2 separate regions of the Homo sapiens genome follow, and region 1 is linked to region 2. A link means that fine-mapping ties the variant in region 2 to the expression of a gene that starts in the linked region. Tissue or cell type: whole blood. Region 2 holds a variant in brackets; the other region holds the start of a gene. All regions are shown on one strand. Distances are from middle to middle. Region 1 holds the start of CYTH4 (cytohesin 4). Region 2 overlaps CYTH4 (cytohesin 4).

What was found. PIP is the estimated chance that this variant, and not a neighbour inherited with it, causes the effect.
Region 1: it holds the start of CYTH4, and the variant in region 2 is fine-mapped to the expression of CYTH4 in whole blood (TOPMed, PIP above 0.99).

What each region holds. Positions count from the first base shown.
Region 1 is chr22:37,281,157-37,284,056 of GRCh38, reverse strand. It overlaps CYTH4 (cytohesin 4), which reads right to left and starts at 1,549. Exons shown (of 13, transcript NM_013385.5): 1 at 1,469-1,549. The coding sequence starts at 1,487. RefSeq lists enhancers at 145-194, 1,741-1,790.
Region 2 is chr22:37,312,058-37,314,957 of GRCh38, reverse strand. It overlaps CYTH4 (cytohesin 4), which reads right to left. Exons shown (of 13, transcript NM_013385.5): 12 at 2,784-2,900; 13 at 1-1,519. The coding sequence ends at 1,447. LOC105373024 (a long non-coding RNA gene) reads left to right here. Exons shown (of 4, transcript XR_938232.3): 3 at 2,255-2,365. Among named protein-coding and RNA genes, the nearest start is that of CYTH4, 31 kb to the right of the region's middle. RefSeq lists an enhancer at 2,675-2,900. The variant A/G (reference allele first, on the strand shown) is at 1,660.

The DNA of each region.
Region 1 (2,900 bases), 31 kb after region 2:
GACCTCAAGCAAGTCAGTCCCCGTCTCTAGTTCACCTCTGGGAGCCTCAGTTTCCTTATCTGCAACATGGAGACAGCCATCCCTGTAACCTCAGTATGTTAGGACCCGAAAGGACAAAGCGCCCTGCTGGACACACAGGCAGGGGGGTTGCATCTCGGTGGGTGCCCTCCCCCCCTCATCCCACCCTCATGTCTGCTGAGAGGCCTGAGCCAGGTGCTGCCCTTCGCTGGGTCTCCCTGTGCCAACCAGGTGCCCCCAAGCTGTGCTCACTGAGCTGTGATTTTGGGAGCCCCCAAAGCCCATGGGAGAGGCAGGGGTCAGAGTGAGCCCTGGATAGGGATTCAGGGAACAGGATTTGGTCCTGCTCCTGCCTTAGAGAGGCTGTTTTCCTCCCTTGGCCTCTTTTCTCCCTTCTGCCACTGGGGGGGCTGTTGAAATGGATCAGTGGTTCTCTGGGTTCCCTGGGGCCCGAGGCTTCCATCTGGGGGTGGGGAGGAAGGGGGATGCCCAGTGGGCGGGGCCAGGCTGCTCCACATTAGGTGCGTTTGAAGCAAGGGTGCTCCTGGACAAGGCTGAGGTCATCTGGACCTGGGGAGCAGACAGCTCCCACGAGCCCTTAGGTTCTGGAATTCCAGCAGCCGTGTTCACCAGAACTGTTGCAGCTCTGGAGCATGCTGACATCCAGGGTGCAGAAACTTGGCCCCTCTACCGGGCCTTCAATTTGCCTCCCAAAACACGACCCTGATGTTCTTTTCCTCACCATCTTTGCAGCCTCCTTTCTCCTCTTTCTCCCCAGACACATTGTCTTAGTAGCTGGGGAGGGTTTCAACCAGAGCCTCTGTTGCTCACTCCTGGCCCTCCCCTGGCTCTAGGCAGCGTCCTCAGCCTCCCCAAAGACCACCCCAACCCCCGGGGGCCAAAAAGGGGCCTCAAGGCCCTTGTATCACCCAGACAAGCATCGCCATCACCAACATCCCATCATCATCTTAATCGCAAGTCACTTTTCTGAGTCCACCTCTGAGCCTTTGGACTGGCTGTTCCTTCTGGCTGGAATGTTTGTTCCTTAGAAAGCCCCTTAGCTGACATCTTCCTCAGGTCCCTCATCAGACAGCATCTCCTCTTGGGGCCTTTTCCACCATGCATTCCTGTCTTCCTTACCCTGCTTTACTGTTCTTCATCCTACCTGCCATCAACTGACATATGGAATCACATTAGAGTCACTGCCGGTCTCCTCATCTAGAGCACAAGCCTATGAAGGGGGAAACAGCGTCTGCTTTGCTACTGCTGTGTGTCCAGCCCCTAGAACGCAACTGGACACACAGGCTGAGCCCACAAATGTTTGCTTCTTGCAGCTGCATTTCCCACCTGCGCTGTATTCCTTTATCTAGGACCCTGTGAGGCAGGGGCTGCTGTCCCATTCTAAAAGAGAGCACCCTGAGGCCCAGAGAGGTTGACGGCAGTTGCTTACCTGGGTGGCACAGGTCCATTCCGACGCCTCTGGGGAAAAGATGACCCGTGCTCCTGTCGCTTGCCGACCCAGCTGCTGTTCGGGCTGGCCCGGCAAGGATGCGTCACCTTGACTGTAACAGGCTCCTTCCTGCTTGCCCCGCCCAGCCCTGTGTGGGGAGGAAGTCAGTCCTGGCCCACGGGGGTCTCGTGTGCAGGCTTTTGACAAAACAGCACTTCCTAAAAACTGGCAGAGTTTTGAGCAGCAGGGACTTTTGCCAGGGAGGGACAGAGGTGGAAACAAACAAACAAACAAACAAACAAACAGATGAAGTGAGGGGAGGGCCAGATAAAAAAGAGAAAGACAGTGAGACAGAAAGAAACACACAGACACATATGCACATACACACGTACACATGCACAGACACCGAGGGCGATGTTCACTGAGGACGAACATTTTCCAGGGGACCATGGGCATTCACGTGGCAGCCTCCTCACATATATGCCATAGGAGCGCCCAACTTGGACAGTCCTAGCAGGGCCCCCTGTGTTCCACCCCACAAGCTCTCTTCCAACTCCCACTTGAGAAGAGACAAATGAATTCACTGCTAGGAAGGGCTTTGCTTCCCTTCAAAGAAATATCTGGCTTTTTCTTGTCTAGTGAACAATCGGGTAATATGTTCCACTTTCCTTCTCCCCCAGGCTGCTGGGAAACTCATCGTCAAATCCAAAGCTCATCGACAGCTATTCTATGATGTCATGTGAACTTTGGGGCCTGACTCAGCTGTTTGACTCTCAGCTAGGGCTAGTCAGCCTCGCTTTGCTTATCTCTGAAAGGGGAATAACACTAACTCGGGGATATGGAAACCATGGAGTGAGAGGATGTGTCGGAGATGCTTGGGACATAGTAGGTGCTCAATAAACACTTTCTCCTTTGATTTTAATTATCTTCTTTGGTTAAAATGTATCATGTTATTCCTTGTGCCTTTTCTGGCAGGTTGGTTCAAATCCTTTCTGCAAAAAGCTTTGCTGTAAAGAAACAGGTATAAATTAAATGTGAATTCCCTATAACTTCAGGACACATGCAGAGTTATTCATCTGTTTCCCCATTACTCTCCAGGCCCCATGAGGGCAAGGTTACCTTTTGTGTTCTGGTGTGTGGTAAAATGCTGGGGACATAGAGGGTGTGCAAGTGTGGAATGAATGAACAAATGAATGAATGAATGAATGAATGAAGGGAACATGGAAGAGATCACGGCCGATGTGAAAGCTAGCTACAAGTTCACCTCCTTTTCACTATGCCGCCGCTTCTGCTGTCAAGGGGCGAAGTCCATTTCTCCTTCCTTGGAAGCTGAGCTGGCCTTGGGCATCTCTTTGACCAATAGCACGTGGCAGAAATGATGTGCCGTGATGTTCGAGGCTGAGCTTTAAAAGGCCTTGCAGCTCCTGCTCTT
Region 2 (2,900 bases):
CTCACCACCTCGCAAGGCAGCTACTCCATCCTGACCCTGTGGAAGGTGTGCAAATGTGGGGGTGGGTGGGGACGAGGAGAGGTGCCTCGCGAGCTGCGGTTCCTTCTGGGGGATCCACCTGCTTCCTTGCCCACTCAGGCTGGCAGTGGGGCAGAGGCGGCCACATTTCCTGTTCCCCTGCCAAGGAATTTCCCTCCAGGGGCTCCCCTGGGCCTGTGTGAGGGGGTGAGAAGTGTTTCCTGTTAGTGGACTCCTCCTCCAGGCCAGGCCTCCCTGGAGACAGAGCTGGCTGCCCGGGTACTGGAAGTCAGCTCTACTCTGATAATACTTCTGCAGAGGGTCTCGAGATGCTGGGACCCGCCGGGCTGCCCTTTATCACCATGGGACTGCTCGTCAGTGGTCTTGCAGGAAAGCCATGGCCAAGACTCTCTCTCTCCAAGCATGAGCTCTGTGTTACTTTCTGGCTCAGCCACTGCCTCCAGGCAGCCCTCCTGTTAACCACAGTGCACGAAACTCTCCCTTCTTGGCTTCTTGGATATAGCACCCATCCTGCTTGAGTCCCATCTGTCTGGGATGTTCTCCGTCATTTTCTTGAGGGTCCCACCTGCTCCTCTCCCCGAAATGGACATCCTGGAAGGTGGAGTCTATACTGCTTTTCTCTCCCCAGCAACGTTGAATCCGGAGTCAGCCTGGGCTCCGCAAACAACGGCTGCCATCTCCAGCTGGAAGCTGGAGCACAGGGCTAGCAGGGGCCAATACGTTTCTAGTCCAAACACTGCAGTTTTGCAAGAACTAGAGAATGGGCATGACTTGGCAGAGGGCACACAGCGAGTCAGAGGCAGAGCTGGGACTGAGCTCGTGGGGTCCGGGCTCCTAGGGCAGTGCTCCCGGGGTTCTGTCCCGGGGTCCTGTCCGTGGGTCTGAGCTGTGTGTGTGCTGAGCTCTCTCAGGCAGAGAGGGCCAAGCCCAACCCGAGGACAGGGGAGGGGTTGGCAGAGATATCCCTGAAAAGGAAGAGCCTTGCCAGGGAGAAGAATCACTTAGGGACCCCACGGCCCCTCCTACGTTGAGGGCTGACAGCATCTAAGTGCAGAGAGCGCCTTCAGAGCCGAGGACACCGAAGTCCAGAGAGAAGAGAAGTTGCAGCATTCTGGGGCTGGTTTTCCTCTGGCTGCTCTCCTCACCCCTTCCTGTAGTGCACGTAGGGCAGGGGCCTGCAGCTGGGTGCCCAGGCCAGGGGGCCTCATTGCTGGACTCTGAGCCCACTGCAGCTCCCACCCACCCTCCTGAGCTCTGCCTTCCCCTCTAGAGTCAGCTCGAGGTAACGGGGAACAGCAATGATGTCTGTGGCCCAAAAGAGTGCACTGGGGTGGGAGGTGGGTCTCCAGGTGCTGCAGGCGATGGGACTCTCAGGGTGACCAGCCCCCAGTGCCACCTCCAGGAATCTCACTGCTTGCTGGCAATCTTCTTCTTCCGAGTAGAGACCAGGTCGTAGAAGGGGACACGGGTGATGCTGGCTCTAGAATGAGTGGGAGGAGAGATTTCAGGGCTGGACTGGCCGTCAAGGTGGTCTGCTCTCCCAGGGCTTGTATCAGGGGCATGGGATTCCCAGGGAGGTGTCAGCCTGCTCTGCCGCGGGGGAAAGGCCAGATGGCCCCA[A/G]CAAAGGCTGTGCCAGGGTAAGTCCAGACTTGTAAGCCTAACCCAGTGTCCCATGGGCAGGGCCAGAGTGGGTGAGGCCTCCGATCAGGAGCTGAGAGCCTTGGGAATTCTACTCCCAAATGTCTCTGGGCCCCTCTCCAGGCTCCCACTGGCGACCTTCGGAAGGTGATGGGAAGAGCTTGGGGTGGAGCTGGCAGACCTGCCTGTTGGACCCTGCTCTGTCCCTGGTTCTGTGGCCTGGGCAGGTCCCTCCCATCTCTGGGCCTCAGTTTCCTCATGTGTAAGATGGAGGTGAGAATGGGTCTGCCTGGCAGCCTCACAGGCTCACAAGGCCCAGGGGAAAAGACCCTGCAAGTCCCCGGGACACGGCCCCTGCCCAGCAACCACTTCAGCCTTCCTCTGGCCACCAGGCCTCACCCTTGCCAATATCTTGGGCTGGCTCAGAGTCAAGCCTTGAGCAGGCTTGCCATCTTGCCCTTTACCAGATGCATCTTCCTCATGTCTCTCCTGTTGGTGGCACCACAGAACCAGTCCCTACACTTTGGCTTTCCTCACCCAGCCACCCCTCCCTATTTATGAGTCTATGGCTCCCCAGTGCCCCAGGAGAAACTGAAGCTCTTCACCACGGTGGCTGTGGCTTTGTCATGCTCAGCAGTTTCAGCTCCCACACTGCTTAGCCTCACTCGGACTCCGGGATGCTGTGCAGGTAGGCCGCCTGCTGGTTGCCCACATGGGTCCGGGTCCTTTTACCTGGAAGTTTATCTGGAAAGCCCTTCCCTCCACCTCCACCAGGTCCTTCCCAGGCCACTTTGGATAGTGATGCCAACAAGAGCACTCACCACGTGCCAGGCAAGGGCGGGGCAAGAACTTTATGTGCAACTCTTTGCTCTATTCTCCCACCAACCCCATGCAGGTGGTCTCTCCTTTCCCTGTGTCCTGGGGCCTGGCCTGGTGCCAGGCACACAGAAAGTACCCATGGAATACGGGTGGAAGGGGTTTGCCAGCCAGAAACAGGAGGGAGAGACTGGAGTTAGCCCCTTTACAGATAAGGAAGCAAGACCCAAAAGAAGCAGGGCCTTCTGGAAGGTGACGGGAAGCCGTCCCCAGACCTGGGCACCCCTTACCGGATGGACTCGATCCACTGGTCACGTTCCTCGGCACTGGTGGCTGAGATGCGGTACGATTCGTGCTTGCCCTCCACCACCCTGCCGTCGCCATCGGTCTTGCAGGCCTTGATTTTC